Homo sapiens: one gene and its partners. The protein of the gene in region 3 interacts with the protein of the main gene of each other region in a pairwise test. Each region holds a gene or a part of one and is shown on either strand. Other genes may lie near its edges.

Region 1 (3,500 bases), on a different chromosome or scaffold from region 3:
CCTCCTAAGTAGCTGGGATTATAGGCACCCAGCTGATTTTTTTGTATTTTTAGTAGAGACAGGGTTTCACTATGTTGGCTGGGCTGGTCTTGAACTCCTGACCTTGTGATCTGCCCACCTCAGCCTCCCAAAGTGCTGGGATTAGAGGCGTGAGCCACCGCACCTGGCCACATCTACTTAATTTTACTGGCAGGTCCTTATTTAGCATGGAAATCCTTTATTATCAATTTTTAGACTAATAATCTAAGTTAACATTCCAAGTTGTTCACATTATGTGACTTCAAATGGGACTTTTTTTTTTCATTATATAGAGTGTGCAAAAAGTCAGGGCCTGTCCCCTCAACAGCCTGGCACAGGGAAGAGGGCCCATATCTTCCTCCCACCCTCCTTTTAGGGCCTTGCTGAGGTAGTGTTTGTCCCCAGGTGCAGCCCAGGCCCAATAGGAGTCCCTACTCCCACCTGGTTCTCTGTAAGTTTGAGCCGAGCTGCCAGCTGGGCTCTCTTCTTCCCCACCAGATTGTGCTGTTTTGCAAACACTTTCTCCAACTCTTCCAGCTGCTCCAAGTTAAACATAGTTCGGACTCTCTTTTGCTGTCTCTCAGTGTCCTGTAGGTCCTCCGTTGGGGCCCAGTCTGGGAAGGCCCAGAGTCCTGAGCAGTGAGCCAGCTCCAACCCTAAAGAGCAACCAGCAGCAGGGGAGGTTATCCAGCAGCAGGGGAGGTTAGCCAGAAGCCCCCTGCACTCCCATCTGGGCAAAATGAGAAGGCACACACAGCTCTGCTACCTTGCCTTCCCCTTGGCCAGGTAACAGTGCAAGAAGACAGTGGAAAGAGACTGTGCAGAAATAACAGGAAACAAACAAATGGGAAAGAAGGGACAATGCAATGAGACTGTCTGCCACCACTACTCTCTAGCCAAGTGGCTTCACTTCTGGCCCCTAAGAGGAGTTGCCAAACCTCCCTTCTCTTTGCCTTCCTTTCCTCTCCTTGACTGCTTCTGGCAACGCCATGGAATGGGCAGAGAAGAGACCCCCAGGGGTTCACCCTTTTAATTCACTGAACAAATATTATACTTTTTGAATGTCTACTGTGTGTCATGCATGGTTTCAGGACAAAACAGAAAATCTCTGTCGTTATGGAGCTTACATCTTAGAAATGAGGTCAGAAGAGATAGAAGTCAGAAGAGAGGGTTGAGCTGAGGATACAAATTTGGGAGTCATCACTGAGCACGTTGGCTCATGCCTGTAATTCCAGCACTTTGGGAGGCTGAAGGGGGCGGATCGCTTGAGATCAGGAGTTCAAGACCAGCCTGGCCAACATGGTGAAACCCCGTCTCTACTAAAAATACAAAAATTAGCCAGGCATGGTGGCACATGCCTGTAATCCCAGCTACTCAGGAGGCTGAGGCAGGAGAACTGCTTGAGTCCGGGAAGCAGAGGTTGCAGTGAGCCAAGATAGAGCCCACTCTACTCCATCCTGGGTGACAGTGCAAGACTCTGTCTCAATTAAAAAAAAAATTGGGAGTCATCAGCTTATATAGATGGTATTTTAAGCCACGGGAATAAATGAGACCAAGCTGTGGGCCAGTGGAGATGCATCAACCAAGAGCAGTTCCTAAGTCAAATCTTGATGGGGATGAGGGAGTGAGCCATTGGGCTATCTGGGGGTATAGTATTCTAGGCAGAAGAATGGCAAGCATAATGCTAAGGCCACTCAGCCCCCACTAGCCTTGGGGAGTCCTCAGGGCTGGCAGACAGACTGCCCCAACAAAGGGAGTGTATCTGGGGTCCCGGCTGCTTAGGACTCCAACCACTGGGCCCACTAGGCTTACACTGTGCCTGCCAAGGTAGACCAAAAGATCAGGAAAAGCCCATCAGACATACAGCCTGGTGTATCTAGTCAGCCTTGTTTCAGAATCAGAAATTGACCTTTGGAGAAGAAAGTAGGCTGTACTGTGTGTTCCTTAAGAGCTCTAGTTGAGGCCGGGCATGGTGGCTTATACCTGTAATCCCAGCACTTTGGGAGGCTGAGGCAGGCGGATAGCCTGAAGTCAGGAGTTCAAGACCAGCCTGGCCAACTTGGCGAAACCCCGTCTCTACTAAAAATACAAAAATTAGCCAGATGTGGTGGTGGGCACCTGTAATCCCAGCTACTCAGGAGGCTGAGGCAGGAGAATCGCTTGAACCTGGAAGGCGGAAGTTGCAGTGAGCCAAGGTTGTGCCACTGTATTCCAGCCTGGGTGATAGAGTGAGACTCTGTCTTAAAAAAAAAAAAAAAAAAAAAAAAAGCTCTAGTTGGAATCCTAGCTCTGCCACCAATTACCAGCCAGAGGACCTTGGGCAAGACAATGTACTTCTGTGAGCCTTGATTTCCTCACATGTAAAATGGTGATAATAATCCCTACTTCCAGAGATGTCAGGATTTTAACATGGTGCTGTCTAGGCACAGTGGCTCATGCCTATAATCCCAGCACTTTGAGAGACTGAGATGGGCCCATCGCTTGAGCCCAGGAGTTTGAGACCACCCTGGGCAACATGGTAAAACCCTATCTCTACAAAAAATACAAAAATTAGTCAGGTGTGGTGGTGCACAACTGTAGACCCCGCTGCTTGGGAGACTGAAGCAGGAGGATCACTTGAGCTCGGGAGGCAGAGGTTGTAGTGAGCCAAGCCGAGATCACTCCTTGCCAATAGAGTAAGACCCCGTCTCAACAACAACAACTACCACAACAACAAAAACAAAAGCATATGATGCTTACAGGGTGCTTAGCACTGTGCCAGGCACAGAGCAAGAAGAAAGTCAATGGTTATTATAAAAATTAAAACAGAAGTGATAATCCAATGGGGAAGAGGGATTATTTCCAGATCTGGGAAAAATTAAGCTGGATCCATACCCAATACCTTGCACTAAAAAAAATCTAAATGGAGGAAATATTTAAATGTAAAAAGGTAAACCCACAAAAATTTAGAAAAAAATGGGGAAGTTATTTTATGACTTCACAGTGAGGAAGTTCTTTCCAAGTATCATATAAGATGTGGGGCCAGGCACAGTGGCTCATGCCTGTAATCCCAGCAGTTTGGGAGGCTGAGGCAGGAGGATCACTTGAGCCCAGGAGTTCAAGATCAGCCTGGGTAACATTGTGAGATTCCATCTCTACAAAATAAATGTTTTAAATTAGTCGAGTATGGTAGCGCATGCCTGTGGTCCCTGCTACTCGGGAGGCTGAGACAGGCATTGTGAGATTCCATCTCTACAAAAAAAAATGTTTTAAATTAGTTGAGTATGGTAGCGCATGCCTGTGGTCCCTGCTACTCAGGAAGCTAAGGAGGAGTGCTTAAGCCTGGAACATTGAGGCTGCAGTGAGCCGTGATCGCACCACTGCACTCCAGCATGAGTGACAGAGAACCTGTCTCAAAAAAGAAAAAAAAAAGGATTTGTAAAAACACATCAAACATAAAAATTAAAATTTTTTCTATGTAACAAAAGAATACCGCCATAATC
Region 2 (3,500 bases), on a different chromosome or scaffold from region 3:
TGCTCTCCCAAGAAAGGGGTCTGTGTTCTAATCCCCAGAACCTCTGGATCTACTCCCTTACATGGCAAAAGGGATTCTGCAGCTGTGAGGAAGGCAAGGATCCTGACATGGGGGATGATGCTGGGTGGGCCCACTGTGATTACAGGGGTCCTTATAAAAGGGAAACAGGAGGGTCAGTTCAAAGAAGGATGGGATGAGATGAGAGAAGAAGGGAGCGTGTGTGTAGCAGGGAGGAGATAACATACAGAGAGACTGGAAGATGCTGCCCTGCTGGTGTTGATGATGGAGGAACAAGCCACAGTCAGGGAAGGCTGGTGGCCTCTACAAGATGAAAAACGCAGGAAATGGGTTCTCCCCTAGAGCCTCTAGAGCAGTGGTCCCCAACCTTTCTGGTACCAGGGACTGGTTTCGTGGAAGACAATTTTTCCATGGAGCACGGGGCGGCAGTGGGGCTGGGCAGGGAATGGTTTCAGGATGATGTTTTATAAGCACATTACATTTATTCTGCACTTTATTTCTATTATATTACACAGTAATATATAATGAAATAATTATACGACTCACCATAATATAGAGTCAGTGGGAGCCCTGAGCTTGTTTTCCTGCAACTAGATGGTCCCATCTGGGGGTGATGGGAGACAGCAACAGATCATCAGGAATTAGATTCTCCTAAGGAGTGTGCAATCCAGATCCCTCACATGCAAAGTTCACAATAGGGTTTGGGCTCCTATGAGAATCGAATGCTGCCACTGATCGGCCAGGAGGTGGAGCTCAGGTGGTAATGCGAGCAATGAGGAGTGGCTGTAAATACAGATGAAGCTTCGCTCACCTGCCACTCACATCTTGCTGTGCAGCCCTGTTTATAAGCACTGGTCCGTGGCCCAGGGGCTGGGGACTCCTGCTCTAGAGGGAATGCAGGCCTTCCAGCTTATTGAGGATTTCTGACCTCCAGCAAGGCAAGAGGATAAATGTGTGTTGTTTTAAGTCCCTGAATTTGTGGTAGTTTGTTATAGCATCAATAGGAAACTAACATGCCTTTCACATCACACCTTCCCTTTGGGTGAGTTCAGCAGACCCAGGCAACTGCTGCAGAACTTCCCTACCCTCTACAGGGGGAAGTATCTCCTTTTTCCCCGTAACAGACCTAATGTGCAGGTAGGCACACAGTAGTTCCAGTCACTGAGCTGGGGAGTGAGGGGGGGTTGGCCTCCAGCCAGCTCACTGGGCCTCCAAGAAAAAAACAAGTAGAGAAGGTACCTGGGACATTTTCAGGCCCCAAGTCCCTATTCAAGGCTGTCTGGAAGCAGAAATTTCCCACTAGGACAGGAGGGGTCTCTTCAGTTTACAGATCCTGTGACACCTGCCCTGCCCTGGATACAGTGCTGGAGGATGGTCACAGCAGATGGGCCACTCTATGTCAGCTGCCCAACACAACTTCTGGTGATGATGGAAATGTTCTATAATTCTGCTCTAATACTTGAAATGTGACTAGTATGGCTGAGAAAATAAATTTTATTTTTTTTGGGAGCAATCATCTGATTCCTAAACTACCTCCAAACACCCCCTCTTTTGCCTCTTAAATGTCTTCCTTCTGAATCCTGAAGTCCTTGTTATCTGCATGCTTACACTACATGCAAATTGCATCACCCTCTGGCCCACAACTCTTTAGTGTCTTCCCACTGGCCTGAGAACAGAGTCTGAAGTGAGGCCTAGTATGGTTCTGCCTCCCTCTTGATCTTGGTCTTGGTCACACTTCTTTCCCTATTCTTTTTTTTTTTTTTTTTTTTTTTTGAGGAGTCTCACTCTTACACCCAGGCTGAATGCAGTGGTGCAATCTCTGCTCACTGCAACCTCAGCCTCCCAGGTTCAAGCAATTCTCTTGTCTCAGCCTCCCGAGCAGCTGGGACTACAGGTGTGCACCACCACACCCAGCTAATTTTCGTATTTTTAGTAGAGACGGGGTTTCACCATGTTGGCCAGGCTGGTCTTGAACTTCTGACATCAGGTGATCAGCCCACCTTGGTCTCCTAAAGTGCTGGGATTACAGGTGTGAGCCACTGCGCCCAGCTTCTTTCCCTGTTCTTGTCTCGGCTTCAGCCATCCCTGTGTTCCCAGTGCAGGGAGCGTGGCAGCCTCTCTCCTGCTGCAGGGCCTTTCCTTACACAGCTTCTTCGACGGCAGTGCTCTCTTGGACATAACCCTGTCCCCTCACTCTAGTCGAGCCCTATGACTAGCTACATCTGACCCCAACTTGGAGATGGAGCAGCAATTCCCTTTTTCAGGGGCCTGTGAACCCCAAGTGGGAAAATAAAGGAAAATCCTGAAGTTCCTTTAAGGGAAATTCCGAGCATCCAGCTAGCCCCAAAAGTAAATATGGAACTTGTTAAACAGGAAGGTAATAGTAACCTAAAACAACAGCCAAAGAAGTTAAGGCTCCAGAGATGTTCGCTTTCCCCATGGAAACTAAAGATAACATCTTAACATGCGTCCCTGAGTTGCCTTTCAGAGGCTGGGACTCCCACTGAGGACCCCACCAAATGGAGCTGCTGGCTCAGAGACCCCAGATAAGCGGGACATGAAGGCTGAGCTTCAGCGTTCTTTGTGCTAAGTTTCTTCTTGAGGGGCTTGGAGAAAGTCACTTCTCCCAGCCAGTTAACATTTTCCTACTGACTCTAAATTTTTAAACAAAGCTTCTTTTCTTTAACCAATTACAAATCAGAAAAATCTTTGAATCTACCTATGACAAGCTCCTGCTTCAAGACATCCTTGCCCTTTTAAGTCTAAACCAGTGTGTAACCTCCATGTATTGCTTTATGATTTTGCCTGTAGCTTCTGCTTTTCTGTAACTTACCATTGCCTTCAGAAATCCTTGCCTAGCCGGGCACGGTGGCTCATGTCTGTAATCCCAGCACTTTGGGAGGCCTAGGCAGGCGGATCACCTGAGGTCAGGAGTTTGAGGCCAACCTGGCTAACATGGTGAAACTCTGTCTCTACTCAAAATACAAAAAATTTGCCAGGTGTGGTGGTATGTGCCTGTAATCCTAGGGACTGGGGAGGCTGAGGCAGGAAAATCACTTGAACCTGGGAGGCAGACGTTGCAGTGAGCTGAGATCGTGCCATTGCACTCCAGCCTGGGTGACCAAGTGAGATTCTGTCTCATTAAAAAAAAAAAAAAGGCCGGGTGTGGTGGCTCATGCCTGTATCATCTCAGCACTTTGGGAGGCTGAGGCGGGTGGATCACGAAGTCAGGAGATTAAGACCAGCCGGGCCAACATGGTGAAACCCCGTCTCTACTGAAAATACAAAAATTAACCGGGCATGGTGGTAGGCGCCTGTAATCCCAGCTACTCAGGAGGCTGCGGCAGAACTGCTTGAACCCGGGAGGCCGGGGGTTGCAGTGAGCTGAGATTGCAACACAGTACTCCAGCCTGGGTAACAGAGTGAGACTCCATCTCAAAAAAAAAAAAATTCCTTGCCTAAAAGCCACTGGGGAGGCCAGG
Region 3 (2,830 bases):
ATCAAGAGTGGGACAATTCTCTTAAGACACCTACCCCACCTTTCATCAAATATCCCCGACCTTAGATTTAGTGCAGGAGTCCTGAAAAACATTTCCACAGGGAAGTTTGGGTCCCAGGCTTATGGGTATCCCCCTACCACCTTTGGCAGGACAAAAATGAGTAAAGCAAAGCTTCTTGCTTCAGAAATATTCAGTCTAATACAGTGTGTACCCCACAACGTAATCATCTCTTCATTTCAGAAGCCTTAATTGCATAAAGTTCCTCGGGAAAGGGATGATATTTGTTTGTTTGTTTTTTTAAGGATAAGGCCAGTATTGGCTCAAACTTATATTTATTCTTCCCAAAGAGTTCCTCCCAGGTTCATAATCTTGATGTAGGAGAGTGCTGCACCAAGTTGCTTCTTTCTTCCCAACCTGTCCTACTTTGCGGGAGGAAGGAAGAAAAGAAAACAAACAAACAAAAAAAAAAAAACAAGGAAGCTGCACTAGAGCCACTGCCCTCAGACATCAACTTCTATTTCTTCTCCACTGCTGCAGTCTGAAGAGTTACTGCTTTCTTCCTTTTCTCTATCTTTCTTCCTGTTCTCTTCTGGTTCCATGGAGACATGACAGTTTACCCAAATAGTCTGTGATGAATCTGTTCCTGCAGCCTGGAGCCCTTGCCCCTCCCCAAACCCTTCTTGCAGACCCTTTGCTGATGAGGACTGTGGATCTGCTTGTTTCAACCTGGGGTCCGGGCCTCCTGTCATGGCCATATTCTTACCCTTAGCATAGGTCGATTCTTTGTATGCAGCATAATTTTCAGGTGACAAAGTCTTGAGCCAGAGATCCAATTTCACCTTGTATTGCTTCTGCAGCTCCTCAGCCTGGCTCTTAAAATGATCCTTCTGGCTCTGCGGGATGCGCTGCCAGCGTCTGCCAATCTCTACCATGCGCTCCCTCACTGACAAATGTTGCATCTCTTTACTTGACCAGGAATCTTGGTGAAACTTGTGGTATCCATTCATGGGGGGTTTCTGAGGCTCTCCATGAAATTTTACCTTCTTGAAAAATCGATCCGTTTTTGGAAGAGACCTCACTTCTTCAATATTTTTCTGAAACTTCTTTTGCACTTTGTTTTGAGTCCTCTTGGAGACACTAGATTTCTTGGCCTTCTGGACTAAATCAGGGTGTTCTTCCCTGAATCGAGCAAGTTTTTCCTCAAATTCTTGCTTTTCCTTCCGGAAATCCTGAATATATTTCTGTTTCATCTGCTCTGGGAGTTCCCTGTATTTCTTTGACAGGATTTTGGTCAGTTCCTGGCTTCTCATCCCAGGGTACATTTGGGAGTACTGGGGCCAACTCTCCTTGAAGAAGCGATTGTAAGCAGTAAGGGGCCTCTTTGGAAAGTCTGGACCGTTCCTGTATTTTTGGCTTTTGTTCATCTTTTTAACACATTTCTTAGCTTCCAGGACTAATTCTTTCAAAGTGCCGAATTTTCTCAAGTTGCAAGAAATCTCTAACCATTTGAGTCTGCACATTTCACCAGAAAAGTTTTTAAAAGCTACTTTTCCCCAGTCCATGTGTGACTGAGTTGAGCTAAACGTGCTGTTGTCATCAGATGGGCGATTATTCTCCATGCATTCCAGTAACCTCAAGATGTCTTTGTTGGACCAATGGCCTTGGCTTCTAGGCAAAGCCATTTAGATGTCTTTGGCTTACTTATAAGATCCCGGTTATGTAGACACCAGAGCAAGAACACAGAGTTCTTTACTTTTAAGACTCAGTGGATGATTTATTTCTGGAAGTATTGCAGTATGTGTGATTCTGTATTTCTGAGGAGAAAGAAAGTTACTCTCCTTCATTTGGATTAATGAAGCAAATTACATCCTATTTGTCATATGTCCCTTGTATAATTCATTTGACCCTTAACTATAAATAAACATTGCCTGTTTCTGAATTAAATTTATGTTTGCCTTTCATATGCTACATGCACAATATTCAGTATCTCCACACCCCACCCCAGCCTGCTTTCTGCCAGATCTCACATGAACCTATCTTAAATTGAGTTGCATAACACAAACACCAGACCACTCATCACTTAAGAAGCTTAATATAACAGAAATGCCCTGAAGACAGAGTCAGAAGTTAAAGTGGAAGGAGAAATGCCTAAACAGGAAGGACTGTTCATTCTACAGTGCCCTGAGTATGGCCATTTTCTAAGCACAGCCCAAATAGCCATAGCTAAAGGTGCAGATGAGAAGTTAAAGATACAATCGGACAAGCCCAAGAGCTCCTCCAGACATGCATCCAACTGTTACCTTTTTATAAGGGAATGTGAACCTGTGATAAAAGACTGAATTATAGATTCTCCAGGACCAGTGCATGGGAATTAATGCTTTCTTGCTTTCTTTTATTTCTTTTTTTTTTTTTTAATTGAGACGGAGTTTCACTCTTGTCGCCCGGGTTAGAGTGCAGTGGGGCAATCTGGGCTCACTGCAACCTCTGTTTTTCAGCTTCAAGTGATTCTCCTGCCTCAGCCTCCCAAGCAGCTGAGATTACAGGCATGTGCCACCACGACTGGCTAATTTTTCTGTATTTTTTAGTAGAGATGGGGTTTCACCATGTTGGCCAGGCTGGTCTCGAATTCCCAACCTCAGGTGATCCGCCTGCCTCGGCTTCCCAGAGCGCTAGGATTACAGGCGTGAGCCACCACTCCTGGGCCGGGAATGAATGCTTTCTAAGAACCATACTGCTTCTCCTTTTAAATATCAAGGATTTAATGACAATTATAAAACATTTCAACTTTATTTGGTTAATTGTTCATCATATTTAAGCCTCAGTGAAAGTT
Region 4 (3,500 bases), on a different chromosome or scaffold from region 3:
GGGCTCAGGTTTCTGCTGGCGGCTTGGCGGGTGTGGGGTTACCAGCCAGCTCGGTTACCCAGCCGGAGACACTAGGCTGGGGGGGAGGGGGTGGGCACAGGGCAGACCCTGGCACCTTGTGCGGTCTCCTCAGGCCCTAAGGGGAGCTGGCACTGTCCAGGCAGACCCTGCTGAGAATCCTGATGGCCAGAGTCTGTCCAAGTGGACAATTGCCTGGTCCAGGGTGGGCACCCTCCGGGGAAAGTCCAGCAGCTCCAGGGCTGGAAACTCTGACGGGCAGAGAGGCACAGGTTGTCCCCCCACCCCCACCCCACATCCGCTCTCGCTGCAAACCCCCCTCCACCACTCATTCTCCCCAACTGGCTCCCAAATTGTGGTCCCCTGCTTCATCCAAAAGTGGGGTGTGGGTGCCCTAAACTCAACCATCTTTTGGCAAGACCAGGCATTGGAAGGCAGGCCTGGTCCCTGATTTAATTCCTCTGCGGCTCTCCACCCCTCATATGCCTGGGAAGAAGGGAATGGATGGTTGGAGCAGGGGGCCAATGGAGAAAGTGGAGAAGTTTGAGCAAGAGAGAACCAAGGGGAAGAGAAAGGAGAGGCAGGGACAGTTCCTGGGAGGAGGCCTAGGGACACTGATGGGGTGGAGAGGATGCGGAGTTCAGGGAGGGCTGAAGGAAGGAAAGCAAAGGGTGGACTTGTGGAGGGAAGACAAGGGTCGGAGGAGGCAATGAGGGGACAGAACCAGGAGGCCAAGAGAGGGGCAAGAGTGAGGGCTGGATGATGGCAGGGAATACCCAAAGGTGGCGGCGCTAAGGCTGAGAGAGTTGCCCCCATTCCTTCCTCCGCCATCTTTTATCTTCCTCATATTTCCCTTGATGGGGACTAAGGGGCTATGGGCAAGGGCTGGTGTCATGGAAAGAAAATGTAGGGAAGCATTAAGGTCTCCCTCATTTCAGGAGCCCCAGAACCAGGACTGGGGGATTTGGAGCTGGGCAGAGACTTAACCCCCACAGCACCGGGAAGCAGCCAACTCCCCTCGCCTCCTTCCCCCTTCGTGGCTTGCGGTCTCTCTTCCCCGCCTCGGCCCCCAGGAAGTGTGAGTGCTGGGGGTGGTGAGGTTAGGAGGGGGAAGCGTCATATGGGGGATGGGGAAGGCATGCACAAGCTTGGAGGGGCTGGGGTGGGGAGAGAAGGGCTCCATAAATGTCAGAGCATCCCTGGGCAGAGAACCTCTTCTTTGAAGCCCTTCTAGTCCTCATGTGAGAAGAGGCTCAGCCCCTTTACCTTCCCTCCCCAACTGGGCAATCCAGATGGCTGCAGCTCCTGGGCCCCAGAGGCCCTGGGAAGCGGTGGGGGAAGCTGGAGAACAAGGATTCCTGGGTCCCTTAGGACTTTGGACTGGCTGTCCAATTTCCCCACCCCCCTGGTCCAGACGCAGGCCAAAGCCATGGCTTCGTGCAAACTTAGCTCCAAAAAAACAGGAAGAGAACCTGAGGCTGGAGTTGGGGTGGGGGGGTGGAGGGAGAAAGGAGACAGAAGTAAGGGGGAGGGGTGGCCAGCCAAGGCACCAGGAGCGTTGGGAAGAGCCTCAGGTCTCTCCATCATCCCTGGCAGGAAGATGTTACAGCCTGGTCCTCATCCTCCCTCACCCCAAGCTGCTGCTCCTGGAGAAGCCTGGCCAGGCCCCTCTCAGGCTCCCTGGCAGAGCCTAGAGGTAGGGGCCTTGGAACCTGGGGAGGGGGGGCTCTGCGTGCCTGTGTCCCAGGCCCATATCTATTTTCTCTGCTGCTAATCCTGGTTCCGCCTGCTGCCCCCCACACTAAGCCTCACTCCCCTAATCCCCAGGGTGGGGGAAAGGGGGGTCAGCTTTACTCAGCTGCCCTGTTCAGGGCCTGCTATCCCTGCCCTTCGGCTGGCTCAAGCCAGCAGTGTTGGCCTTCGTGGCCCCCAGCCCTGCACTGGACCCTGCCTGAGGTCAGCACCCGGAAAGAGTTCCCATCTCCCTTTTCTTTCCAAGACCAGGCCAGTGGCCTCCACCTTTTGGTTTCTTGGTGCTGGACATACCCTGCCAGGTGCCCTTGAGCACTGAAGGGTAGGTGATAGGCACTCCCACCTTTACCCCCTCCCAACTTTCTCACCCTGAAGTCTTCCCCCAACCAAGGACAGGGCAGGCTTGACTCAGGGCCCAGTTTCAAGAGAGCTGCCCACCGGCTTGGCCGGTCTAGCAGGCCTGACAGTGAGGGGAGCCTGGGGGGGTGGCGGGAAAGAGGGGAGTGATGGGGTGGGGCCCCCAGTTCTTCCCCCTACCAGGCAAACAGACCAAACAGACCTTGCCCGGTTCCCTGGCACAGCTGCACCCCCAACCACCACACACACCCATGCCCACAAGGTCTTAGCAAGAGGGGGCATGCCAGATTGGGTGGGGATGGGCCGCCTTCATGGGGCGTCAGGGGACTGGGCCCTCTGGGATGCAGAGGTGGGAAAGGTGCCCAAGGTAGGGTGGGCACCCTGGCACCAGTGCCCTGCCCTGGCAGAAAGAAGGGGGAGGCCTTTGCCCCACCCATCCCTCCCAGATGATGGGTCTAGGAGGGCCCCTTGGCCTGGTTGGCACCACCATAGCTCCAGGTGGCACCTATATTGGCATGGGTGTTAGAGCCCTGGGTAAGGGTTAGGGGAGTTTCCCAGAAGCTAGAGAAGCTTATGAACACCCTCTCCTTCCCACACATGTCCTCTGCCTCTCCCCCTCTTTCATTGCTACCTCTTGGCCATGGGCATTGGATTTGGGCCTAAGGAGTTAAACACCCACCCTTGCCCAATCCCTGTGTGAGTTGCGTGGTGAACGAGCCTGAGCCTGTGACCTGACAGTGAGGTCAGCCAATCAGCGCCCCCACCACACCAAGTTGCCACGGAGACCGGCCCTGGGGTGGGAGAAAGGAGGCGGGTTTAGCAGCGGGAATGGGTGGGGTGGGCAGGGAAGGAGGGAGAGGGATGGGGTGAGCCACGTGCCTGCCAGTGCCCAGCTCCCAGCCAATGGACAGCGAGGACAGCCCCACCCATCCCCCTTAGGAGGGACAGGATCCACTTGGGCCCAGGAGGGTGCCTACTGCTGCTTAAGTAGCTGCAGCCACTGTTGCTGCTGCTCCTCCTGCTGCTGCTGCTGCCCACCTGGTTTTTGTTTGTTCCCAAGTCTGGGGGCCATTTGCCACTTGTACCATTTGTAAAGTACAGGCAGGAGGATTAAAGGGAGCAGGGAGAGCTCCCAGATGGCTTGGTTCCTAGGGAGAGAAGTGGTTTGCGGACTTACGGTGGGAACAGGTGAGCTATCTAAGGGTGCCTAGAGGTGGCTTACAAGCAAAGAAGGACATGCGGGTGCTGCTCACCCAAGGTTTCTGTGCAGGAGCCCTGGCCTTGCAATGAAGAGGGCAGGCAGGGAGGCAGACACAGAGAATGCACTTCTTGTGTCCTAAAGAGGAAATTTGTGGCTTGACTCCCCCATTCAC

What was found. The genes of interacting proteins can lie anywhere in the genome.
Region 1: the proteins of UBTFL1 (region 3) and NOTO interact in binary tests that used the Homo sapiens proteins (3 or more experiments, as listed by UniProt).
Region 2: the proteins of UBTFL1 (region 3) and ZNF558 interact in binary tests that used the Homo sapiens proteins (3 or more experiments, as listed by UniProt).
Region 4: the proteins of UBTFL1 (region 3) and ZBTB7B interact in binary tests that used the Homo sapiens proteins (3 or more experiments, as listed by UniProt).

What each region holds. Positions count from the first base shown.
Region 1 is NC_000002.12:73,205,574-73,209,073, reverse strand, and holds part of NOTO (homeobox protein notochord), read right to left. Parts: intron 675-3,500; coding exon 460-674; intron 1-459. UniProt on the Homo sapiens protein: Transcription regulator acting downstream of both FOXA2 and Brachyury (T) during notochord development. Required for node morphogenesis.
Region 2 is NC_000019.10:8,825,805-8,829,304, forward strand, and holds part of ZNF558 (zinc finger protein 558), read right to left. Parts: intron 1-3,500. UniProt on the Homo sapiens protein: May be involved in transcriptional regulation.
Region 3 is NC_000011.10:90,084,802-90,087,631, reverse strand, and holds UBTFL1 (upstream-binding factor 1-like protein 1), read right to left. Parts: upstream 1,683-2,830; coding exon 501-1,682; downstream 1-500. UniProt on the Homo sapiens protein: Essential for proliferation of the inner cell mass and trophectodermal cells in peri-implantation development.
Region 4 is NC_000001.11:155,009,302-155,012,801, forward strand, and holds part of ZBTB7B (zinc finger and BTB domain-containing protein 7B), read left to right. Parts: intron 1-956; coding exon of another isoform or gene 957-1,096; intron 1,097-1,159; exon of another isoform or gene 1,160-1,447; coding exon of another isoform or gene 1,448-1,714; intron 1,715-2,275; exon of another isoform or gene 2,276-3,315; intron 3,316-3,500. UniProt on the Homo sapiens protein: Transcription regulator that acts as a key regulator of lineage commitment of immature T-cell precursors. Exerts distinct biological functions in the mammary epithelial cells and T cells in a tissue-specific manner.